4 linked regions of the Homo sapiens genome follow. The protein of the gene in region 1 interacts with the protein of each later gene in a biochemical or structural test. Each region holds a gene or a part of one and is shown in the gene's direction. Other genes may lie near its edges. The genes, in order: POLH, POLI, RAD18 and RCHY1.

Evidence for each region.
Region 2: the proteins of POLH (region 1) and POLI interact in far-western blotting, tested with the Homo sapiens proteins (2 studies listed by BioGRID).
Region 3: the proteins of POLH (region 1) and RAD18 form a complex in vitro, tested with the Homo sapiens proteins (one study listed by BioGRID).
Region 4: the proteins of POLH (region 1) and RCHY1 form a complex in vitro, tested with the Homo sapiens proteins (one study listed by BioGRID).

What each region holds. Positions count from the first base shown.
Region 1 is NC_000006.12:43,607,175-43,614,206, forward strand, and holds part of POLH (DNA polymerase eta), read left to right. Parts: intron 1-3,379; coding exon 3,380-3,549; intron 3,550-6,485; coding exon 6,486-7,032. UniProt on the Homo sapiens protein: DNA polymerase specifically involved in the DNA repair by translesion synthesis (TLS). Due to low processivity on both damaged and normal DNA, cooperates with the heterotetrameric (REV3L, REV7, POLD2 and POLD3) POLZ complex for complete bypass of DNA lesions.
Region 2 is NC_000018.10:54,293,486-54,298,735, forward strand, and holds the end of POLI (DNA polymerase iota isoform a (long)), read left to right. Parts: intron 1-163; coding exon 164-982; 3' UTR 983-4,749; downstream 4,750-5,250. UniProt on the Homo sapiens protein: Error-prone DNA polymerase specifically involved in DNA repair. Plays an important role in translesion synthesis, where the normal high-fidelity DNA polymerases cannot proceed and DNA synthesis stalls. Favors Hoogsteen base-pairing in the active site.
Region 3 is NC_000003.12:8,876,565-8,883,494, reverse strand, and holds the end of RAD18 (E3 ubiquitin-protein ligase RAD18), read left to right. Parts: intron 1-2,035; coding exon 2,036-2,138; 3' UTR 2,139-6,420; downstream 6,421-6,930. UniProt on the Homo sapiens protein: E3 ubiquitin-protein ligase involved in postreplication repair of UV-damaged DNA. Postreplication repair functions in gap-filling of a daughter strand on replication of damaged DNA.
Region 4 is NC_000004.12:75,511,399-75,518,815, reverse strand, and holds the start of RCHY1 (RING finger and CHY zinc finger domain-containing protein 1), read left to right. Parts: upstream 1-4,412; 5' UTR 4,413-4,529; coding exon 4,530-4,619; exon of another isoform or gene 4,620-4,661; intron 4,662-4,817; exon of another isoform or gene 4,818-4,908; intron 4,909-7,417. Other genes in the region: THAP6 (THAP domain-containing protein 6), read right to left, coding at 1,837-2,044, 3,284-3,363. UniProt on the Homo sapiens protein: E3 ubiquitin-protein ligase that mediates ubiquitination of target proteins, including p53/TP53, TP73, HDAC1 and CDKN1B. Mediates ubiquitination and degradation of p53/TP53; preferentially acts on tetrameric p53/TP53.

The sequences.
Region 1 (7,032 bases):
ACATCCGCCTCTCCAGTTCAAGTGATTCTGCTGCCTTAGCCTCCCGAGTAGCTGGGATTATAGGCACGCGCCACCACGCCCAGCTAATTTTTGTATTTTTAGTAGAGATAGGGTTTCACCATGTTGGCCAGGGTGGTCTCAATCTCATGACCTTGTGATCTTCCTGCCTCAGCATCCAAAAGTGCTGGGATTACAGGCGTGAGCCACTGCGCCCGGCCAGGACTGACACCTTTTTATGGCTGAATAATATTCTATTGTATTAATATATACCATATTTTGCTTATCTACTTATTAGTGAATGGACATTTGAGTATATTTCCACTTTTGGCTATTATGAATAATGTTGATATGAACATTCATCTACAAGTTTTTGTGTAGACACCTGTTTTCTTTCCAGCATATACCTTGGAGTATAATTTCTGGGTCATATGTTAACTCTATGTTTAGCATTTTGAGGAATCGCCAGACTGTTTTCCACAGTGGCTACACCATTTCACATCCTTACCATCAATGTAAGAGGGTTCCAATTTTTCCACATCCTTGTTACTGACTTTTTAAATTTTAGCCATTCTAGTGGGTGTGAAATGGTATCTCATTATGGTTTGGCTTACATTCTCTGATAATCTTTTCATGTGCTTGTTGGACATTTGTATATCTTTGGGGAAATGTTTGTTGAAATCCTGTTCCTGGGCCGGGCGTGGTGGCTCAAATTTTTGGAGGCCGAGGTGGGCAGATCACCTGAGGTCAGGAGTTCGAGGGTAGCCTGGCCAACATGGCGAAACCCTGTCTCTACTAAAAATACAAAAATTAGCTGGGCGTGGTGGCGGGCACCTGTAATCCCAGCTACGCAGGAGGCTGAGGCAAGAGAATCGCTTGAACCTGGAGGTGGAGGTTGCAGTGAGCCGAGATTGCGCCATTGCACTCCAGCATGAGCAACAAGAGCAAAGCTCCACCTCAAAAATAAAAAAGAAAAAACAAAAATCCTCTCCCCTTTTTTAAATTGGGTTGTCTCTTTATTATTGAGTTTTAACATGTCCCTTGTCAGATACGTGATTTGCAAATATTTTCTCCCATTCTGTGGGTTTTCTTCTCACTTTCCTAATGGTATTGTTTGATGCATCCTCTTCTTTTGAAATGTCTTGGAGTTCTACAAGTCAACTGTACATGTCAAGAATAGTCCAAAACTGCTCGTTGCTCCTTTTTAGCTGGAATGGGTGGTAAATGTTTGTTCCTTTGGTAGGCATCATAAAGAGGGATTTGATCCAGTTGCGTTATCGCCCTTTTCCGCTTTTGCCCACTAGGTGGCACTTGTTTCTCATCTCTCTCTAAGTCCCTGGGGCCTTTCTTTCCACTTTTTTTTCCTAAGAGACAGGGTCTTGGCTGTCATCCGTGCTGGAGCACAGTAATACAACCTTAGCTCACTGCAGCCTTGTAGCCTCAACCTCCTGGGCTCAAGTAATCCTCCTGCCTTAGCCTCCCACAGTGCTGGGAGTACAGGCATGAGCCACTGTGCCTAGCCTTTTCTTCCCTCTTTGTATCCAGTGGGGATCCCTGAAAATCTATCTTTTAAGCTTCAAAGGACTTTATGCCAAAAATAATTCAGGACATAGCAGATCCTATCACTTCACTGTTTAAAACATTCCAGTGGTTTCCCTTCACACTTAAGGCATATTAAGGAATTTTTTAAAAGTAATTCTATAAAGCCAAATATAATCTAATTTCTTGCTACTTCTCTGACCCCATCTCTTATCTTCCCCTCACTTATTCTAGTCTCCACTTCACTGGCCTCCTTCCCTTTATCTAACACACTAAGTAAGCTCTTACTTTAGCACTTCCCGTTTCTTTGCCCTGGAGACTCTTTGTTCATATATTCTTAATATTTGCTTCCTTGATTTATTCAAATCTCTGTGCATGTATTACATTCTCCAGGAGGTCCTCCCTAGTTACCCTATCACAGCAGCAGCCTCCATCACTCTCTGCCTTATTCTGCTTTTCTTCATAGCACTCATCTCTGTGGTCATTTCTGTTACATGTCTATTTTTTATTATCTATAGTTCCTACTACAACATAGGATCCATGAGGACCTGGACTTTATTTTGTTCTCTCCTGCATCTCTAGGCACTGTCTAGGCATGCAGTTATAGTTGAATAATTTTGGTCAACAAGGACTCCTTTATAATTGCTAATTTGTATTCCCTCAAGATATATAAATCCATACAAATGTATTTTTTATCCAAAAAGTAGTTCCTGCTCTTAGCTTGTTTGCCTTAGGGATACTTCTTCTCACTAGCATCTTTTGATAGGGGTCCCTTATGTAGAATTTTCACCTTCTTATATTTCTGCCTCTTGACCATTATGTCTCAGTTTGCTGAGATTACAGCATTCAGATGCTTCAGACTTCACTGAAAAGTGAGTCATGATCTTGCTCTCTCAAGGCAGGCTCACTATATGGTATCTTCTCTAGATAAGCTGTAAAAAGGTGTTGGTAGAAACTTCTGGAATTGGTGGCGAATGTTTGTTTACCATAAGAGCCCCAGGGCAGAAAAAAAGATATGACTTGAAGCCTAGTTCCACTTTGCTTTCAGACAATTACTTACCTGAAACCTTCCTTCAGTCACAAAATAGTATCTAGTATTGTAGATATTTGTTATAATTGTCCTGCTTAGACACCATGAAAAACATTTAGGGGAGTCCCATTTTCATTTGTGCTGTCCTGTTCCCATCATCTGTCAAAACATCCTAGGATACTCCGATGTTCCATAATCCAAATTATGTCTTCTTCAGTTACTTTTTACACCCAGAAATAGCATTAACACTTTTTTGTGGAACCATGTAATCAGATTTCTATTCAGAAAATGCATTCTGTTGCATATATATAGATTCTTTTTTTTTTTTTTTTTTTTTTTGAGACAGAGTCTTGCTCTGTCATCCAGGCTGGAGTGCAGTGGCACCATCTTGGCTCACTGCAACCTCTGCCTCCCAGGTTCAAGCAATTCTCCTGTCTCAGCCTCCCGAGTAGCTGGGATTACAGGTGCCTGCCACCACGACTGGCTAGTTTTTTTGTATTTTTCAGTAGAGATGGGATTTCGCCATGTTTGCCAGGCTAGTCTCGAACTCCTGACTTCAGGTGATCCACCTGTCTCAGCCTCCCAAGGTGCTGGGATTACAGGCGTGAGCCACCATGCCTGGCCTCTTTCTCTTTTTTATATTTTATCTTTACTCTTTGCAGAACTCAGTTTACCTTTATTCTTGACTTTTAAACTACTGTTTCCAAACCATTGTCACCCTGGTTCTTTTAATTTCCTCTCCTGCAGTTCAGTACCTAGAATTCAGATGCTCCTCATAACTTTATTTCTGGTCTCCATCCTTTCCACCCACAGAATGACAGGGTAGCCACCCAGCTGGTTGTGAGCATTCGTGTACAAGGAGACAAACGCCTCAGCAGCCTGCGCCGCTGCTGTGCCCTTACCCGCTATGATGCTCACAAGATGAGCCATGATGCATTTACTGTCATCAAGAACTGTAATACTTCTGGAATCCAGACAGAATGGTGAGTTCTTTTCTAGCTCATCTTCTCAGAATAGATGATGATTCTTAGCTCTGTCTTAGCTCTACAAGACATAATTTTTATCATAAAGTTCCTCATTGTGTCTAATCACTCAAATTTTCACATGAGCTGAATTTCAGAAGATGAAATATGCTTTTATGTACAGATTAGTCCTTCAATGAGGTAAAGGGTAAATGTCATTTTAAAGTTATTATTAAAGTATCGGCCGGGCGCAGTGGCTCACGCCTGTAATCCCAGCACTTTGGGAGGCCAAGGTGGGTGAATCACCTGAGGTCTGTCTCAGTTCTACAAGTAGTAGGAATCTCTGTCTTAGCTCTACAAGTAGTAGGAATCTGAGCTCTTCCATCTGGGATAGACTCTGACTCAGACTACCAGTACCTGTTACTCTGGGAGAAAATACAGTACCAACCTCAGAAACAAGACAGCTCAGCACAGATCCTTTGCCGACAGCTGATACATTCCAGTTCCCAGGAGGTTAGACCCTTACTCTGTATTGGCTTGGTCAGGGAAATGACCAGTTGCACTTGGAGAACAGAGCTCAAATTTCAAGGATACATTTGGGAACTTCAAACTACTTGATTGTTCTATCTTAAAAGCATATTTCTTGATTATAAAGGTGACCTGTGTTCACTGATATTCTCTATCTGACATCCCAACTCAGTTACAAGCTCCACTGGTATTATACCAAATGTCATATTCATTAGTAAACTTCACTTCTGTTGGTCATGAAATATAAGCCTCTTTTTGGAGCATCTTCATTTTCTGTCCAGATATTAATGATTTTCAGGATTGGAATCCTTTAATTGCATATTTAATAAAGCCCTTACTTTTTTTAAAGTATTCCAAATTCACAATAGAAATATAATTATGAGAGAGAGGTAAGTCAGTTGCTCACTTACAGATGTATATTGAATATTATACAAAATAAAATCAAAGTTTAGTTAATCGCTTATTACTTATCTAAATATATTGGCAGTATAATTATGTGTACAGACCTATAATATGGTGGAGTCTCCTAGTCTTTGTTCATAGGGCCGGGCGCGGTGGCTCACGGCTGTAATCCCAGCACTTTCGGAGGCCGAGGCAGGCAGATCACCTGAGGTCAGGAGTTCAAGAGCACCCCAGCCAACATGGTGAAACCCTGTCTCTACTAAAAATACAAAAATTAGCCAGGCATGGTGGTGGATGCCTATAATCCCAGCTACTTGGGAGGCTGAGGCAGGAGAATTGCTTGAACCTGGGAGGTGGAGGTTGCGGTGAGCCGAGATTGCGCCATTGCACTCCAGCCTGGGCAACAAGAGCGAAATTCCGTCTCCAACAACAACAACAACAAATAAATAAATAAATAAATAAAGTCTTTGTTCTGAGAATAATTTACTTAATACTTCCTGATATATTTATTTTCAAATATTGAAGTTTTACAAAACCAAATAACAACCGTGGTACTAATGTACACATGAAACCTTATTTGAAAAGTTATAAATTGACAAACTATAACAAATACTACTCACCAACGGTGTGAAACTCCGTGATGCACAGGGAAGCATCAAAATTATCTGATTATAAGACTGTCCCAAAGCATGAAACCTGAGGATATTGGGATACTTTTTTTTTTTTTTTTTGAGACGGAATCTCGCTCTTGTTGTCTAGGCTGGAGTGCAGTGACGCAATCTCGGCTCACTGCAACCTCTGCCTCCCGGGTTCAAGCGATTCTCCTGCCTCAGCCTCCTGAGTAGCTGGGATTACAGGTGCCCGCCACCACGCCCGGCTAAATTTTGTACTTTTAGTAGAGACAGGGTTTCTCCATGTTGGCCAGGCTGGTCTCAAATTCCTGACCTCAGGTGTTTCACCCACCTCGGCCTCCCAAAGTGCTGGGATTACAGGCGTGAGCCACTGCACCCGGCCAATAGTGTAATAATAACTTTAAAATGACATTTACCCTTTACCTCATTGAAGGACTAATCTGTACATAAAAGCATATTTCATCTTCTGAAATTCAGCTTATGTGAAAATTTGAGTGATTAGACACAATGAGGAACTTTATGACAAAAATTTCTGATTTTTTTTTTTTTTTTTTTGAGAGGGAGTCTGGCTCTGTCACCCAGGCTGGAGTGCAGTGGCGCAATCTCCGCTCACTGCAACCTCTGCCTCCCGGGTTCAAGCAATTCTTCTGCCTCAGCCTCCCAAGTAGCTGGGTTACAGGCGTGTGTCACCACACCCAGCTAATTTTTGTATTTTAGTAGAGATGGGGTTTCACCATGTTGGTCAGGCTGGTCTCATACTCCTGACCTCATGACCCACCCGCCTTAGCCTCCCAAAGTGCTGGGATTACAGGTGTGAGCCACCGCTCCCGGCTATCACAAGAATTTCTTAAAATGTTTCTGAAATTGGGACTAGTAACGAAAAGCAGTTGTGGAATTTCATTCTCTAGAAATTCCAGAGTGGTAAGTCAGTCAGGGTTAGGTAGTGCCCTGTTTAAAAACAGGATAATGGCTAAGAGGATTTTTTCAAGTCTTTCTAGTCTAAATATTCTAAAGCTTTTTGTTGTCCTGAATAAAATTTCTTGCCCCAACCCTGAATTACAGCAGCTTTCCAGTGGTACCTTATAAAAAACAATAATCTCTAGCTGTCGGGAGGTGAGTGGTTGCTAAATTAGTGGTTCTCAAGACATAACATCAGCATCACCTAGGAAATTAAATTCTCTGTCATCCCAGGTCTGTTAATCTCTGATACACATTAACGTTTGAGAACCACTGCAGTAAAGAATAATTTCTGTGGCAGAACCAGAATGCTAGTCATCTATGGATTAAATCTGTCCTATGGTGAAATAAAACAGATACAATTCATGGAATTAGCAATAGGTCACTATTTTAATCTTCTAAATTGCTAATCATCTTATTTCTTTACTTTCTGTATAGGTCTCCTCCTCTCACAATGCTTTTCCTCTGTGCTACAAAATTTTCTGCCTCTGCCCCTTCATCTTCTACAGACATCACCAGCTTCTTGAGCAGTGACCCAAGTTCTCTGCCAAAGGTGCCAGTTACCAGCTCAGAAGCTAAGACCCAGGGAAGTGGCCCAGCGGTGACAGCCACTAAGAAAGCAACCACGTCTCTGGAATCATTCTTCCAAAAAGCTGCAGAAAGGCAGAAAGTTAAAGAAGCTTCGCTTTCATCTCTTACTGCTCCCACTCAGGCTCCCATGAGCAATTCACCATCCAAGCCCTCATTACCTTTTCAAACCAGTCAAAGTACAGGAACTGAGCCCTTCTTTAAGCAGAAAAGTCTGCTTCTAAAGCAGAAACAGCTTAATAATTCTTCAGTTTCTTCCCCCCAACAAAACCCATGGTCCAACTGTAAAGCATTACCAAACTCTTTACCAACAGAGTATCCAGGGTGTGTCCCTGTTTGTGAAGGGGTGTCGAAGCTAGAAGAATCCTCTAAAGCAACTCCTGCAGAGATGGATTTG
Region 2 (5,250 bases), on another chromosome or scaffold:
AATTGTGGTAGTAGATCTCTAGTTGTTTGGAACTGGCCACAAAGAGTTGTATTTGTTGAGTAGGTTAGAAACATGTCAGATAATAGCTACAGGCACACAGCAGCAGCAGCGATATTTAAAAGATATCAGATATGTAAATTAGTCTGTTATTCTTGTGTTCTAGAAAATGAAAGACACTCATATGGAAGATTTTCCCAAAGACAAAGAAACAAACCGGGATTTCCTACCAAGTGGAAGAATTGAAAGTACAAGAACTAGGGAGTCTCCACTAGATACCACAAATTTTTCTAAAGAAAAAGACATTAATGAATTCCCACTCTGTTCACTTCCTGAAGGTGTTGACCAAGAAGTCTTCAAGCAGCTTCCAGTAGATATTCAAGAAGAAATCCTTTCTGGAAAATCTAGGGAAAAATTTCAAGGGAAAGGAAGTGTGAGTTGTCCATTACATGCCTCTAGAGGAGTATTATCTTTCTTTTCTAAAAAACAAATGCAAGATATTCCCATAAATCCTAGAGATCATTTATCCAGTAGCAAACAGGTATCCTCTGTATCTCCTTGTGAACCGGGAACATCAGGCTTTAATAGCAGTAGTTCTTCTTACATGTCTAGCCAAAAGGATTATTCATATTATTTAGATAATAGATTAAAAGATGAACGAATAAGTCAAGGACCTAAAGAACCTCAAGGATTCCACTTTACAAATTCAAACCCTGCTGTGTCTGCTTTTCATTCATTTCCAAACTTGCAGAGTGAGCAACTTTTCTCCAGAAACCACACTACAGATAGCCATAAGCAAACAGTAGCAACAGACTCTCATGAAGGACTTACAGAAAATAGAGAGCCAGATTCTGTTGATGAGAAAATTACTTTCCCTTCTGACATTGATCCTCAAGTTTTCTATGAACTACCAGAAGCAGTACAAAAGGAACTGCTGGCAGAGTGGAAGAGAGCAGGATCAGATTTCCACATTGGACATAAATAAGCATATTCAGCAAAAAGGTCTGAAAAGCAAGGGAATACCATTATTTTCGGATTAGCGGTTTATTAAGCTCTTCTATATTAAACACTAATAGATATTCAATAACGGAGTAAACTGTTCCAGATAAAGCAAGAATAGTTGCAAGAAGTAAATTCTGGCACAAAGCGTAAAAATATAACAGAAGAAATAATGTAAAATACTATCTTTTATGTCTAAAGCCATTTTATATTACTTTTCAATAAAAAGAATATCATGGTCAACATAGAATATTTTTCATGAATTGGTGGGGAGATGTATATGTTTATATATAAAAAATAGCCAAATCGTTGCAATGATATGGTAAAGGACACATTTTTTTTTTTTTTTTCCTGTGAAATGTGGAATATCTCAAATTCAGCCTCTTAGGCTGAATAGCAAATCCTACTGCCAACTAACCTATTAAAAATATAGATAGTTTTGACTAAAGTACTACATTACATTTAGTATGTTGACTTTTAAAATACCAAAGCAATTTATATTCAATTAATGCTTCTTCATACACCAAGAATCTACCACAATACACAGCACACAAAGGCCGTTCAATAAACATTGAATGAATGAATGGTTTGGCTAGGGCCAGGGTGGGGAGTTAAAGTGAGAGGAGGGTATATGTTATAGAGAACAGTGGTAGAAGGAACTCTCCGTGCAAGTAAATTAAGGGAAAGATGGACACCAGAAAGGCAAGGTGATGGGCCTATAAGCATACTGGATAATGGAAGAAGTCCATTTCTTTCTAGCTAGTTTGAAGGGCCTAAAAGCACTGAGATGTTTTTGTATCTTCCCTACATTTGGAGATGATATTAGGTTGTCATAACAACCACAAATATAGACCATTACTAAATTGGTGGATGTCCTCTTTCTCCCATTGTTATTGCCTTCCTCTTTTGCCTGCTAAACTAAAAATTGGATATAAGATTGAGAATGTATTATATAATTTGCAAGACATAGAGGATGTTTATAGAATATACTAAAGTATCCCTCAGCACCAATATGGGAGTATCCTGGTCTCAAGTTTATAATTTTTGCACATATAATCTAAAGAAGAGACTTTAAAAATAAAGTACACAAATATGAACCAAAGAGTAGCTTAAAAATACTTTCTTCTAGGTCTGAAATTTTCTTTTCTTTCTTTTTTTGTTTTGGAGACAGAGTCTCACTCTGTCGCCCAGGGTGGAGTACAGTGGCGCAATCCCAGCTCACTACAACCTCCGCCTCCCAGGTTCAAGCAATTCTCCTGCCTCAGCCTCCTGAGTAGCTGGGATTACACGCATGCCCTACCACACCCAGCAAATTTTTGTATTTTTAGTAGAGATGACATTTCACCATATTGGCCAGGCTGGTCTCGAACTCCTGGTCTCAGGTGATCCTCCACCTTGGCCTCCCAAAGTGCTGGGATTACAGGTGTGAGCCATTGCTCCTGGCCCCAGCTCTGAAATTTTAACTTAGTTTTGGATTCCTTGGAATTTGAAAATATGCTAACACGAAGGATTGTAAATAGGTAGTTTGAGGTTATCAGGAACAGTAACTTGAAGCAAGAACATCAGAAATTGTTCACCATGCAAATATTTAGTACTCTGAATCAAGGAACATAGTATTTTTTACATGAGTATTCCAGTAAGGTAATTAAACTTATGAAAAGGGTATATAACTTTTTGTAAATCATTAAAACATTTTATAGTCCTTGTAATGATTTCAGGACCTTGGACAGCTAGAAGGGGCTTAAGAAAAAATGGCTAAGAAAACAAAGTAAATGGTTTTGGCCAGCTTAAAAAGAGAAAGCAAAATAGTTAAAAATACATTTCATAGATTGAGAATGTACGGGCTATGTCACAGTTACGCTACTTATTTTGTGGTTTTAAGTTAGTCTCAACATCTTTGGGCCTCAGAATCAACTTTTTTATGGGATCTTTTTTCTCTGTTTTTAAGATTATCTCTTTTTTCTTTGGTGCTTTGCAGGTTTACTGTATTATTTGGAAGTGCGAATTTATTTTTATTCTTAGTATATACTGGCTTCTTCCTGTATCTTTTAATTCATGTTCTGTAAAATTCTCAACCACTAGCTCTTCAAATATTTCTTCTCTATTCTAGGACTGTATACAAATGATAGACTTTCTTACTGTATCCTTCATGTCTCTTAATTTCTCATATTTTTCATCCTCTTGTTTCTCTTTACTGCATTTTGGGTAATTTCATCAGCTCTATCTTTCTGTTTACTAGTTCATTTTTCAGTAGCATCTCACCTGCTATTTAAAACAATGATGGTTTTAATTTCAATAAATATATTTTTCATTTGATTCTTTTTAACTTCCCGTTTACTCATTACAGTCCCTTGTAAGTCTGTTTCTAATTTTTAAAAGTCAAATATATGATATTTTTGATAATTTCAATATTTTAAGTCTTTATAAGTCTACATTTAAGGTTATTATTGCATATCATTGTGACTTATTTCCTTGAGTATGTGTTAATCTGCGAGAAGACAGAGGGCCTAAATTGTGTATGTTTTCCTTCAGTATGATTTGAGTTCGTTGCTTCTCTGGGTGAGGTGGTACAAACTCCTTGGCATACTCTATTCACCTTTGTGGATCCTGATTGAATGCCTTGTCTTAAGTGTAAGCTCCCTGACCCTTACTACTAGCCGAAGGTTTTGTCTCTGCAGGTCAATTCCAAACTAACAGGCAGATGCTGTTAGCTATCTGCCTCCAGGGATAAACCCCATCTTTCAAGCTTGCTTCTTGCTTGATGCTTTCTGCTGCTTTCTTGCTTTTGTTTCAGCTCGAGTTTGTTGTTGTTTTTTTTTTTTCCTGTTTCTGTCTTGAATGTAGAGGGTATTTTTATTTTTATTTTTTCTGTTTCTCTCTTGAGTGTATAGTGTAGAGGGGGTTTCTGTCTTGAGTGTAGGCCTGGAGATTTCCCTTATATGGTACAAACCAGCAATGAATTAAGAGGTCTCTTTTCTCCAAGATCTAGTGTTTTGTACTAGGAGAACTCTAAAAAGTATCTATTCCACTGTAGTGCCAAAGTACAAATTTATTTGGATTTATTTTTTGCCATCTTATTTTTTAATATATTTCTTTTTCTATGTTGTGCTTCTTTCCCACCTTTATCTCTCCTCCTATCTTTTGGGATCAGTTGGGTTTTCTATTTAATCATATATTTTCCCTTTACTGATTTGGAATGTGAATGTTACAAGTCCTTTTGATTATCCTTAAACATCTAAAAATGCTACCCTCTTTCCAAACAACACAAAGGTATTGAAATAACATTAATTCTAATTAAATTCCACAAGTTCTTTATTAAATCTCCAAATTGGATATTATTAGTATTTTATATAGTCAATGTTTATTTTTTTGATGGGACATGGTGGGGGCTTACCTTTTTTCTTGTGTGTCAGATGTTCCTTCTAGGTAGAATTCTTTATACCTTCTGAAATTATGTCCTTAGAGCTGTAGATTTAGAACTGACATCTCTTGAGCTGTTCTAAGATAATATCTTTTACTTTGGAGATACGCAGTTTTTATTATATGTCTAGCTATAGATTTATCATGGATTTAGGTTCATTATGAATCTGCAGATTTGTGTCTTCCATCAAATCTGGATTGTTTTCAATATTAAAAAAACTTCTATTTTAAAATCTGTATATAGAAAGGTACATAAACATAAATGAACATGTTAATGAGTAATTGTAACAACTATGTAACTGTCCAAGTCAAGAAATAAAACATATCAAGTAATCAAGAAGTCCAGAGTTTTCTTTGGGGTTTCATTACGTAGGCATGATTTATTAAAACCTTTACTGTGTGCTTGAACTTAATCTCCAGTTTCCCTCCTCTGTCTGGACATCAGGCTGGCTCAAAGTCTCAACACCCTAATCATGGTTGTTTTTTTGAAGTGAGCTACCTCCATCCTAAATCATCTTTTTAGCATTAGCTGTCTAGGGCCCACTGTGGGTCACATCATTAGCATACAGTGTCAGGGCTTACCATGAATAATGAAGGCACTTCTGTTGTTTAGGAAATTCCATGGGTTTTAGGAGCTTGGTGTCCAGGAACCCTGAACGAAGACCAGACCAATTATACTACAGAATCTTTTTTTTTTTTTTTTTTTTGAGATGGGGTCTCGCTCTGTCGCCCAGGTTGGAGTGCAAAGGTGTGATCTTGACTCACTGCAACCTCCATCTCCTGGGTTCAAGTGATTCTCCTGCCTCAGCCTCGAGTAGCTGGGATTACAGGCAC
Region 3 (6,930 bases), on another chromosome or scaffold:
GTCTAAGGAACTGTTCAATCATTAGTGGACTACAAAGCTAATCAAGCAGACACTTTTAGTTGCCATATACAACAAAGAATACATATTTATAGGATTGGTTTAGAAAAGTCACTAAACAATAATAGCAAACAGCAACAACAACAAATCCTGGAGAGATCTTGTTTGTTGGTTGTTTATTTTTGGTATTTCTCATGACTGGGGTTCTTTGACCAACTTTGATCTTGATTTGAAGTGTTTCAACGTTTTTAGAAAATCCACAGCCATATATATTTACATATTTATTATCCATAGTTCTTTCTCTCCTTTCTTCCAGGTATTACAGTTATACACATGTTATGCCATTTTTATTGTCCCACAGCTCTTGGCTGCTCTATTCTATGTGCACCCCCTCACATACTCCTTTTTCTCTTTGTATCTTAATCTGGTTTTTATTGACATACCTTCAAGTTCACTAAGTCTTTTTATCAACTTTGTGTATTGCACTTAAAGCCTATTGAAGGAATTTCCATCTCGAAATGGGTTTTTCCCTTGCTTCATTGTGTATCATACTTTTTGAATGCGGGCCATGCAGTGAAGGACCATAGGGACTGAGGTCGATAGTGTTTGTGCCTAGAAATGCACATCCTTCTACTGGGTCATTAGTGTGGGGAGTTGAGCTGGGTAATTCAGAGTTGACCTGGATTGGAGTTTCCTAGTGACTAATGTGACCTTCAGTGCATCCACTTCAAGTTACTCTAGCAGGTGGCTGCTTTGACTTCTGCTTAGTGTTGGGGCTGGATTGCCAGAGGGTTTTTCTCATTGATTTTGCTCCCATTTTCCTTTCAGCCATGCTTGCTTTCCTGCACCAAATAGGGGCATATCTTCACCATGTCTGTGTCTCTCCCTCAGCCATTTCCTGCTCCTGCTTATTGCTTGTTGCTAGGCTGATGGTGGGAAACAGCCGGGGTTCACTGTTATCTCAGTCTAGCCTGAGTCTTAGGTAGGCCCTGTGTGCCTGAGTCTCAGGGGTGGGCCTTTCTCAGCACTTCCACCTCCTCCCATGGTATCTGGCTACTTGACCAAACCTCTGCGTGGTGTCAGTGTAAGGTCATCAGCTGGAGATGATTTACTGCCCCTCCTGTAAGGTAGAGGTTTTAGTTTCTACCATTCCCCCTGCAGCAGTGAATCTTTGCCTGCGTTCCTGCAAATGAGGTCATATGCCTCCCCTTGAGGCAGACTGATTTCACCTCTGTTCCTTCCCCAGAGGCCATAGGTCTTTGCTAGAGCCCCAGGGGGAGTTTCCTGTGTTTCCCTCAGCAACTGAAAAGCTTATGCTTCATGGGAGAGAAGCATTCAGGAGAGCAGGCAGGACTTGACTTCTTCCTGTCCCCCGTAGCCACTGAAGTGGCCCCTCTCCATTCACCTGTCCTGCTCCCAGTCTTTCTTGTGAGCACCTGACGGAGGCTCGTGGAAAAGAGCTGGCAAGTGTGTGCAGACTCTCCTTGTGTCAGGGGCCTGCAATACTAGCCTGTATTTAAGAAATTAGGAAAATCTTAGCTGATTCTTCTTACCTGTTTGTATGGCAGCCACCTCGTTCTCCAACACTCTGCCAAAAGTGAGAGAAGTGTGGCCCATCTTTGGAGGGGCATATTTTTCTTTGGAATTTTACTTTCTTAGTTCCTTTAAAACCTCAGGTCTCTGAAGGATCAAACAGAGTTAAGATTTTGTTAGACTGTCTGGCTTTTTCTTGTTAGGATGGGAGCAGCTTTTTGTTTGCCGTTTTTTCCCAGCCCTCTACATGCTAAACAGAAGCATAAAACTCCTAAATTTTAATTCAGAAAAAGGGGTTCAGAGCTCATTTACTATCTGTGATCTTTGCTAACTCACTAATTCATAAAGTGGAAATACTAATAATAACAATTATGAATTCATCAACAGAATAGAGGATTATTTCGAGGTTTTAATGAAATAATATGTGTGAAAACACTTGTAAACTAGAAACTGCTGTACAATAATCATTACTTTCCAAGATGTCATTTCCTTTTTCTGTCTTCAGAAACGATCTTCAAGACACAGAAATAAGTCCAAGACAGAATCGCCGCACAAGAGCCGCTGAAAGTGCTGAGATTGAACCAAGAAACAAGCGTAATAGGAATTAATGTGGGCTTTTGCTGACTTTTCAAATGCATTGATTAGAATACCGTACTTTTGGTTGCCACAGATAGATTTTCTATTTATAAATGCCCAAGGAAAGATGCTAAATTCTAAATATTACGGTTAGCTGATATTCATTCTTTTCTGCTTTTCCAGAGGGGAAAAATGTTACAAAATATCCTTACTTGGTCAGTTGCCTCCTGCCTCTAAAACATCTCTCTCTAAAAATACTGACATTTCACACAGGTACCAGCTTTGCAGAGGAGGTAGACTCTTTGGCACTTTGGCACAGGGATTTGGTTTGGTTTGGTTTGGTTTGATAATTAAATTTCAGAATGTCCTTAGGCCATTCTCCTTCTCTTCCATGGAGAATCCAGCCTCACAAAAGGATTCTTTCAACTTCTTTATTGCAAGAAACAGTTGAGTTAAATGTTTGTTTTTGGAAAGGCGGGATGTCAGTTCACATCCTTGGTGTGTGTAAGTACCGATGCACGCCACCACCATGCCTGTGTTACAGCAGCTCCATGATGGTTGTTGCCCGAGGTTAATGTAGTTGTTTGTTAGACCTGTGTCTTACACATTTCTCAGAGTAGGATATTAGTATTATAATTTAAAGCTACGACAGTCACAAAGTCACAATAACTTAGAAACATTGCGCATATTCTTCTGAAATAGCACTTAAAAATGATTAGTGTCAGTATTTTTTCACTTGGGTCAATCAAATCTGTAACACTGAATCCAAGCTATTAAACAAAAAGTATGCAATGAATGAATTTTGTAAATGAATAGAGAGTATCAGTTTACAATAATGTTCTTAAAACAGTATCCTCTGGATAGTTGAGTATGGGTTAGAAATCATTGAAATGGATTGGTCAGAAATTGCTATCTGTGTAAAATGTCTACCAGTAGCCAGATGCTTCCAGAGTTCTTAATGCCTCTCTGGCATTTCAGAGCCAGCATCCCCCAACTCCCACCCCTCTGCCATCACCCAACCCAAACACATCAGCTTTCAAATGAGATGATAGTAAATGCGGCAATGTTAAGACAAGAAATTTATGATTTGCCAGATTCAACATTTATGACCTCCCCTTCCAAAGACTGTCTCCGTTGACCTTGTCTTTTTGGTATGCCTTGGGGTTTCTGATAATGTGTGGAGTCTCATTATGGCTGAGAGTTTAGTGTTTTCACAGTGAAGTGCAGACATTTGATTTCTTTATGAGTTCCCTGTGTTAGAAATGGCTATAGAAAAATTTGTCATAATAATTTCATTTGCATGAAATCCTGAGGGGTGCATTAAGGAAACTAAAAGCACCACTTACCAAATCTATCGGCAGAACTGATGTGAGGTAAGTGAGCATGTCAAACAAAATAGGAGCTCACATGGATATATTTATGTCACTGAGTTGTCAGAAATTATGTCAAAATGAAAACTGTTTGTTTCATGACAAATTATATAGTCTATAAATTAAACTGGAAGTAATTATTACTTTAATTGCAGCAAAAGGAGTTTGTGAGGGAGCGGTGAGACCCAAGATTGGGAAAGTAGGCACATGAGTTCATTCAGCAAATATTTGGTTATCTATGTCTGTCACTGTGCTGACACTGGGAATACAAAGGTGGCCAAAGATCATCTAGAACAATGGTTCCCAGTGGGGTGGGCAGAAAGATTTTGCCCCCCAGGAGACAGCTGGCAATGTGTGGAGACACTTTTGGAGGTGGAGGGTGGTGAGGGGTACTACCAGTATCAATGGGTGGAGGCCAGGGATGAGGCTAAACACCCAACCCTCATGGATTAGTTTGCCAGGGCTGCCGTCACAAGATACTGCAGACGGGGAAGCTTACACAACAGAAATGTGTATTCTCAGAATTCTGGAGGCTGGAAGTCCAAGATCAGTAGGGTTTCTTCTTCGGCCTCTCTCCTTGGCTTCCACTCATGGTGTCCTTGCATGGTCTTTTCTCTGTGTGCACATGACTGTGCAGGACTGGTGTCCCGATTTCTTGTAGGGACAGCAGTCATTGGATCAGGGCCCATGCGTATGGCCTCATTTTACTTCAGTTACCTCTTTTTTAGATAGAGGGCCCTATCTCTAAATACTGTCACATTCTGAGATACCGGCAGTTAAGACTTCCAACATATTTAGTGGTAGGGGTTAAGGGGCACGCTTTAGACTACAACACTCCACAGTAAAGAATTATCCAGTCTAACATGTCAGTTGTGCCAAGACTGAGAAACCTGTAATGTAAAGGAACTCCCAAGTCTACCTGAAAAGTAAGGTCTAAAGAGCATTTATTGAGCACTATCTGTTAGCACTTAGCATATGTTTAATATTCATACATTGAAAGAAATGTATGTTCATATCCATCTGACAAAGATTAAGGAACTTAGAGTAAGTAATAGATCCAAAATTGAAACTGATAAACTTCTGGTTCTAAAATTCACCTTTTAGTGAAAATACAGTTTCTCACCAAACTTACAGTAATTCAGAGTTATTAACTCTTTCTACCTCCTCACTCCCCTCAAAGTTATAACATCTCCCATCAACATCAGCTCAGAATGGCAGTGATGCTTATGGTTTGTGGGGGTGCAGGTGAGCTGCTGGATGCACTTTAGATGGCCTAGTATGCCAGGCCGTCCTTTCATCCTCTACTCTCGTCTTTCTTTTTCGACCTCATGTTGAGGATTACTGGTCTAGTTGAAAAAAGAATTCATACACATAAGACCATGTATATAATAGAGGGAGGTATGCCTTTAAAAACAAAATTACATGGTAAAGACTGATGTGTCAACAGGGATAGACAACATAGAGAAGGCTAGAACTGTTTCTGGAAAAAAACCCAAAAACAATGGATTTCAAACTTCTTAGCATCCGATAAAAGAAAGTAGCAATTATTCAAATGAGAAACACTTCTGTCTGTTATGTACATATTATGAAAGTATGAACATAAGAGGGAAAACCACAACCATTACATTTTTTACCATTTCAGTAATTTTTTTTTGGTTTTTAGTCTGTTTTTAGACATCCTTAAGAACAACTATCTGAGGCTGTAAACAAGTATTTACATTAACACCCATGATACTGACTTTATACTCCCTACCTGCATTGAGACCTTAAAGGGGGCATTTCTCCATTCCTTCTGTGTATTTCTGGGTATCCCCAGGTTCAGATATTCAGAATACAGATACAAGTCCATGCTTGCATATGTTGCTGCTCCCCCCGACAGACTTCTACCAGCATCTGCCCTCCTCACCGCTGCTCTGTCACGTGCACTGCGGCTGGCCCTGCTGGAAAGTCCTACCTTGCCTAGGACGCCATCCCCGATATAGCCCCAAGATGCAAACCTGCCAAGTGCTAGGGCAGCCCTGCCTTCCTGTCCATTTCAGTCTCTTGGCCTTGCTGTGTTCCAAGTGGAAATGGGAGTGTGCTTTCCTGGTTTGCTAGTGTACTATCACCCGGACCACAGCGTCCTGTGCAAAAATTTGCTTCCTCTCTCTTCCCCTTTCACTCTTTCTCTTTTCTCTTCCCCACCCCCTTTTTTTTCTCTTTCCCCTTACCTTTCTTTCCTTTCCACTCTTCCTGTCCTTCCTTCCTTCAACTATTAGGACTATATGTCAAGTAATGTGCAAAACAAAGACAGTTCCTGCCCTGATGGAGCTTGTAGATCAGAAGGGAAGATGAGCATTAAGTAATTATATAGATTAATGTACAACTGTGATGAGTGCAACAAAAGAGAGGTTCATGGCACTATCAAACATGCAATGGACGGATTTTGTTTTTGCCTATAAACTCTTGCCATAGAAAGCTTGAAAATCAGTCCAGGGGGACAGCATTAATCACCATGTTCTTTCCTTATCCCTGTCTTCCCCAAAATTCATGTGTTGAAACTTAACAAGAGGTGGGAACTTTAGGATGTGATTAAGTCGTGAGGGCACAGCTCTTATAGATGGGGTCACGGTCCTTCTAAAAGGGCTTGAGGGAGTGGTTTTGTTTCCTTCCATCCCTTCCGCCACATGAGGACACAGTCTTCGTTCCCTCTGGAGGACTCAGCAACAACACACCATCTTGGAAGCAGAGAGCAGTCCTCACCAGACACGGAATCTGCCAGTGCCTTGATCTTGGACTTACCAGCCTCCATACCTGTGAGAAATAAATTTCTATTGTCTATAAGTTACCCAGACTGTGGTATTTTCTTCTGGCAGCACAAATGGACACCCAGAAACTGATGCATGCATCTTCTGACTCCTTTGATTCCAAAATACAAAATATTAGAATAAAGTTATGGAAGTCAGCTTATGCTAGTAAGTGCCTGTGTGTCTGCCAACTTCCCAATAGTATCAAGAGAAGCTGGACAAGTCAGAATTTCATATCACCTATCCAGGATCACCTCCATAAACACACAAACACACACACACACACTCACACACACACACATACACATACACACACACAGTGCTTTCATTTGTCACAGAAAGATTCCACAGTGCATTAACAATACTATTTAATGATTGTATAACAATCCATCTGGATCGTGTGCCATTTTGCACAGACATTCTACGCTTGGACACTTACGTTACTTCCAGCTTTTTCCAATTACAAATAATTTAGAAGGCATCATGGTGCATATAGTTTTTTCCATATATATGATTACTTCCTTAGATTACATTCTCGGAAATGGAATTATTGGGACCTTAGCTTTTAATAAAATATATGGCCAGGTTTTCAAAACGGGACACCAAAGTATTCTAAAGGAATTTTTTTCTCTGGGTCTTAATGGGTTTTAAGAATCACATTGGAGTTC
Region 4 (7,417 bases), on another chromosome or scaffold:
CCAATTTACTGAATCTAATTCTCTGGAAGATGTAGGATTCTGTATTTTAAACAAACTCACTGGATAATCCTTACGTAGACTAAAGTTTGAAAGCTACGGTGTAGGAAAATATTTAATGTCATGGAGAGTAGTAGTTAATAGTAGACTCTGAAGTCAAAATGCCTGGGATCAAATCTAGCCTCTGCCATTTAATAGAGGTGTGACCCTGGGAAGGGCATTCTAGTTCTCTGGGCCTCAGTTTTCTCAAGTGATAAAATGAAAATAATAATAGTATTTACCTGACATGGTTCTTTCAAGGACTGAGTTAATAGACATGTAAAGTACTTGGAATAGTGCCTGGCACATAGTACACACTATTTTAAAAAACCCAATAAAGCAAATAAAGGAAAAGGTATACAGTATAATTCTATTTCCAGAAGATTATCTATATAAGTATAGATGCATATTTACGGATAATTACAAAGATACAGATCAAAGTGTTCACAGTATTATCTATGGATTATGTGATTATTTTATTTTTGCTCCTATAATCTTATTTTCTAAAATGAAAAATTTATTTGTTATAAGAAAATCAATAGTTTTTGAAAGTTGGTAACTTATGGTTTATTTGATTTATTATGCCCATATTTCTTAAGGTCCCCTTAACATTACGGCTAGATGACACCTTGGTGGTAGGAAAAAAAACAAAAGCCCTAGACCAACTTTCCCAAGATACTGTATATTTATTAGCACCGAAGAAAGTGAGGCATTCTCTACCTGATCACTCAGGTTCTACAATATGACCAACTGCAGAAAGTGACCAGGACTGCATGGGAGCGGGTACGCTTTTGGCTACTTCTCTTGTTTTTAGTTGCCAGGAAGGAGATCCCTTTCAATGGAGGCTCTCCCTGAATTTTCCACATTGGAATCAATCAATCAATGTCTATAGGTTCTAGAAATTCACTTTCAGGTATACAAAGTCAAGAGAGATACTGAGGGTGAGGCAGCCAACCCATGGGAATATTACCCAGAAAAAACATGGAATTCAATTAGCGTTTACTTATTTGACTGTTCTTTCTTTTCCTGACCTTTTCTTCTCCTGTTCTTAGATCTCTTTTTTGGTTTTCTTCCTTTTGATCCTACCTAGACTTTATGCTTGCATGTATGTGGCTCTTACAAGTACTTTAGTCCTGTTAGTGGTTCTACTCCTGACTTCTGCCCCAGTGTTAAGGACTGCCAACTTGGAACATCAGTTCAACCTTCTTACGTTAACTTCCATTTTTAGACAAAAATCTTCAGTTATGCTAATTCCTAAAGTCAGCCCACTTCATCAAACCTTAGTAATATACAAATATTTATGAGTGGTTACTGGTAAAATACTCCTACTACACATTACAAAAGTTGAAGATGCAGTCTACAAATTTAAAACTTCAAGAACAGACTTCAAATGAATAAGCAAACAATAAAAATGTTAGCAAGAGTGGTGAAGGTTCTTCAATAGTATCATAAAAAGTGAGCAATGGCCAGGCACGGTGGCTCATGCCTGTAATCCCAGCACTTTGGGACGCCGAGGAGGGTGGATCACGAGGTCAGGAGTTCAAGACCAGCCTGGCCAAGATGGTGAAACGCCATCTCTCCTAAAAATACAAAAATTAGCCAGGTGTGGTGGCAGGTGCCTGTAATCCCAGCTTCTCGGGAGGCTGAGGCAGAGAATTGCTTAAACCCTGGAGGCAGAGATTGCAGTGAGCTGAGATCGCGCCACTGCACTCCAGCCTTGGTGACAGAGCGAGACTCTATCTCAAAAAAAAAAAAAAAAAAAAGTGAGCAATGATGGTAAACAGTATCTCATAAACAAACCTGTAGGTGATATGGAGAATCAAAGATAGAAGGTATGACTCCAGGTTTCAGTTTAATATTTGGAGCACTTCTGTCAAAATCTGTCTTCTTAAAGTGCCTCGAACACAACACATCTCCTTTTTTAGGCTCCCAAATGCCGGCTGCATTCACATCAAGTCTTTTCATTGCTAATACCCATTTCCTTTTGATGTTTTCATCTGTGGGGAATCTAGAAAAAAAATACAAAAAATATTTTAAAATCAAATACTATTGCTATATAATTGAATTAAAGCTGCCTTATACAACTGTGACTAAATTGATTCGTTAACTAGTTTATTAGTCTTGAGAATTATAATATTTAGGAAACCATAATTCATGCTTTTGTTACTTTCCGTTTTAATATTCAGATTTTCTGCCAATCATGCTGCAGATATATGGCCCTCATTTCATTTTTTCTCACATTATAAGGAAGAAAAGTTTCAATGGATATTTAGCATCTTATAGTAAGATCCACAATTGAAGGTATTTATTCATCTATAGATGATAAAAGAATTATCACTTGGGCCTTTTCCTATCTGAAATGATATCCAGAATTTATCCTCGATAAAAAGGGCCCCTTGTAATTCCATTCTTCTGTCAGCACCAGAAAATTGCTTAGTACAGCATTTAATACATAGCAGGTCTACAGATGCTTAGTGAATGAATGCAGAGAATAGCTGCAGTGTGGAGTTCTGGAGATCAGAGCTATTTTGAGAGATATGAAGGCCTAATAGCCATATCTTACTCAATTTTCAAGCTGGTTCAAATTTTTCTAAAATAAGGTAGGATATATATGCTCAGTTTTGATTTATTATATCTAACAAAATAGCTAGGAGATCTTTCTCTAACACATAGGACAGTGCCTGGCACAAAAGCAGCAAAATAAACCTTTAACAAGTGAACAACTATTAAATCTTATTACTCCTTCACTTACTCCTTCATGGCTGTCAAGAGAATGGCTAAAATATGAAACTAAAATCATTTTGATTTATTTGCAACACAGCTAAAGATCCCTTGGTCTTAACTTGTAATTTGTATTTTTTCTCTATAACCTATGCTTGATCTACTTCTAAATAGAGAGGGCAATATATTCGAGCAAAGCTCCTTCATTCAGATTGTAAACTACATGTAAACAACATTGAATTTCTTTGGCGGTGTGATAAAATACAAAGTAATAATATTAGCAAAAGTTAGCCTTATGGTATTTTTTGTAAACCAGTCTCTGATATCTTAAAGTCTCTGATATCTTAAAACTTTTAAACTAAATTATAAACATGTAAAGGTATCACATTGTCACTTCAAATTTAACAAAAAGGTTATTTAAAAAGGACTCGGGAACTAAAGTTCAAAATTGAAGACTTAAGTAGAACTGTCTTTTGCTTTTTATAACATGGCCAAAGTATTTGGCTTAACTACAGCAAAATCTTACACGTGAAATGTCAGTCCTTTTAACTTCGAATTTGGCAAGCAGCGAGAAGCACATCCAATGGCGGAGCAGCATTTCACCATTTTAGCAACTCATAACAAAACTGAAAGAAAATTAGAATGTTAAGAGTTAGTAACCGGAAAGCTGAAGGGGAATATTTTCCCTTTCCCGGTGTTTTAGGAAACACAAAATCAGGATAGAAAGCTAAAGACAAATATCTTCTTCTAACACCTGCAGCTTTGCTTACATCATTTTCCAGGGCCTTGACTCTTTAATAAGGAGAAACATATTTAGCTGTGTACCCCGAGTATGATTTCAATTTTGTTGGCTTGTACATTTTCCTTCCACCTTCTAACAGGTACCATGTTCTTTGTGCCACAAAGCCTTTTGCACACTAACTCCTACCCATCTTTCAGCCCTCGGCTTGCATCGCTTCCCCAGGGAAGCCTTCCCTCACTGACACTCAGATTGTCAGAGCTGCTCTAATATTAGCTCTCACAGGACACACACTTCTTCCTAGCACTTCTCCAGGTTGTAATCTTACATTTATTGCAGTGATTGCTCTTATTAATGTCTTCCTCCTCCACCAGTCTTGTTAGTTCCATGAGGTCATGGTGGAGTGTGTCTATTTTTCCTTACTTTTTGTCCTCACGGTTTAGCTGGTGACTGGCAATAGTGAATGTCAGTACATATTTTGAAAGAACAGCAAGTAAACGGGAAAGGGAGGAAGCAAGAAGCACTTCGAGGTGCCAGCGAGCACCCTGGCGTCCAAGAGCAGCGCGCGGGACCCGCTGAGCCCAGGGCCCGGGCCGAGCTCCGCCCCTTTCTCCAGGCTCCCCGCCACCGGAGGGAGAGAGGGAGGACCCGTCACAGGTAACGATGCGCCCAGTGAGCGTCCTTTCCTCTGGGGCCAACCAGCGTCTCCGCGCCGCTGCCGCCAACCTCGCGCCGAACTACGCCCTGAGATTTGGGCGGGTAGCGATTGGGGGAAAACAGGCAACCTAAGAGTTATTACCGTTAGCAGCGAAGACTGCGACTAACGTCAACGACGGAGACTGCGTCTGCCTTCGCTTCCGCCTCGTAGCCCCGGGAACCGGAAATCCGTCTGCCCCGGGTCACGTGCTTAGGAGCCATATTGTCGCTAGTGGCCGCTGGGGCTGGGAGGGGTGTGCTAGAGAGGCGCAGCTTCTCTGGGCGTGGTTTTTATCCTGGGGGAAGGATCGGTGGAATGTGAGGGGAGGTGGAGGAGATGGCGGCGACGGCCCGGGAAGATGGCGCCAGCGGTCAAGAGCGAGGTCAGCGGGGCTGCGAGCACTATGACAGAGGATGTCTCCTAAAGGTGACGCCTTCTATGGACTCTTCCCTGACAAGCTTCCGTCAGGTTGGGCTGGGGCGGGCTGGGCAGGTGGTTAGGCTTGGATTTAAGTTTGAGGTTAACCTGATTTTCAGGATACCTTTTCCACCTGGAACTGGGTTCTTCTTGAGGAGAACGTTTTTGGCAAGGCGATAAGCCCCACCTTTCCTACCTGCTTCGTACCTTTAAAGCAAAACCCTTCTTGGGAAGTGATTAGGCTTGCACAGTGGTCTCTGCCAGTGGGCTTATTCGTCTTTTGCTGCCGAAGTAGACTGAGGCAGCCCCGGGCCTGTACTGGGGTTTTCCGTTCAGGTGTGTGATGAAATAATGGAAGTGGAGATAATGGAAATAAGCAAGTGGAGAACCCGAATACGATTTCAGCTCCTGTGGTAAAGTTTTATAGCCTGCCAGCTTCATGTTAAAGGCAGTGCACATGTTCAGACGTAGGAGAAAACGTGTGTCCCAAAAAAGAAGACAATCATGTAATTGCCATTAAATAGGAAATTATGCATAGGAAAGTGCCTAATAAGCATGTATTGTTACTCTGAGAAAACTTCTTAATCTGTATTTTTTTTTAAATTGGCACGTATTCAATTGAAGTTTCCTGATTTTCCTTGCAAGAAACAGTACAAAAATTTTGCTTAGAAAACTTGAGCTTTGGAACCTCAACCGCCCTATCCCCAAATCTTAGCTCTCCTCTTTAATAACTGATTTTAGCTAGCTCCTCTCTACCCCGTATGTAAAATGGAGATGATCGCGCCTGTTTCATAAAAGTGTATGAGGATTATATACTAAAGGGCGTGTATAGTGTTTAACAGGGCGCATTCCCTGAAGTAAATGAGTAGTAAATATATACCACCATGACTGTTACTATCATCGTCAATCTGAGTATTATTATTTTTTGTTCTTTCACTTCACAAGTCAGCCTTGCTGGTCACTGCCTCATTATTAGAAGCAAGTTCAAGTCTCAGGCCTGTACGTGCATCCTAAACTCTTTTCTATAGGTCATGGCTTGACGAACATTGCTCCACTGAACTGGATGAAGCTCCTTAAAAATGTTGGTCATCCACCAAGTGTTGTGTAAGGAAATTGAATGCTATCCTTATGATTCAATTTCTACTGAGATGTATTATTATTCTTTCAAACTTGAGGTCTAAAACGGAATTTAACATCTTGGTGCCCCCCATAAACCACACAATTAGATCTGTGTATCATAGCACTAAGATACTTCGCCCTAGGTGTCAAACAGTTTTTGCCTTCCCCCGCCCCCCCCCCCCCCTTAAATACCAGAGGCCAAGTGAAGTATTTCAAGGAGGATGTGGTCAGCTGGGTCAAATGCAGCTGTTTGAGTAAGATAACTGAGAATTGCCCTTTGGATTTGGCAAGGAAGAGGTCACTGGTGATCTTGACAAGAGGAGTTTTAGTGGAGAGATCAGGATTAGAGTGAATTTAGGAAAGAATGGGAGGAGTGGAATTGAAAATAGCACTTATAGGGTATTCTTGGGGTTTAGCTGTAAAGGGGAGCAAAAAAAAGATGTGGTTGCTGGGAGATCTGGCACCATATTTTTTCCTCTTTAAGAGAGGAAGTATTACAGCATGTTTGTATATTCTAGGAAATGATACAATAGAGTGAGAACGTTTTATAATGCAGGAGAGAGTGAGAAAACTGTAAGGGCATTGTCCCTGAGTAGCCAAAGGGGATGAAATCCAGTGCACAAGTGAAGGAGTTGGCCTTAGAAACATAGACTGTCAGTTCTTCCTAAGGGAAGGCAGAGAATGAGGTATATTTGCAAGTAAGTTAATAGAGATAATAGGAGGATGTTCTTTTCAGGCCTGTCAGCAGGAAGTATGTTTACTGTTTTTATAGTGAAATAAGGTCATCAGCAGAGTGTTAAGGAGGAAGAGTTGTTAGAGTTTTAAAGCCAGAGGAGAAGAAGTGAAATGATCATCTAAATCTTAGGTCTTAGACTCTGGAAGAATGAGAGAATTGACCAGGGAAACGTGGTAGTAAGTGTCCACCTCATATGAACCAGCAAGGACGGTGATGCTTTTTCTCTAGCCATATTCACCTGCTTCTGATAGAAGTCAAATAGGATTTAACTAGGGTTGGGATTGTTATCTATGAGTGTAGAGGAACTGAGAAGGGAACTAGGGTGTTGCAAGGGGAGACTTGGAGTAAGTTAGGGAGGAGGTAATGGTTAGAGAATTTCATGCTTGGAATTGAGATGCAAAGAGGGTGCCGTTGTTCTGTAGCATTGGTTTTCAAAGTGTGGTGAATGGAACCCTGGGGATTCCTGAAGTCCTTTCAGGGGCTCTGCAAGGCCAAAACTACTTTCTATGAACACTAAGATATTTGTTTTTTTTTTTTTTCAGTCTGTTGACACACGCATTGATGGTGGAAAAGCACTGTTTAGTATTGCTAGTATCTTAGCTTGAATCAAGACAGTGGCACTGAACTATACTACACCTATAGTTTTTTTAAAAAGCCAGCTTCACTTAAAAATGTTGATAAAGCAGTAAAATCGTTAATTTTAACCAAATCTCAACCCTTGAATATATCTTTTAATATGCTGTTCAATGACATGGGAAGTTTTGATCAAACACTTCTGCAAACTGAAATTAGAGGGTTGTCTTGAGGAAAAGCTCTTGTGCAAATTGGATTGTAAAGTGAACTAGTTGCTTTTTTTCATGGAACAGCATTTTTTACTTGAAAAAATTGTAGTCATTCACATTTGGGTAGTTGGCAGACATTTTCTCAAAAAGGAGAAAAGTGAGACTCACTA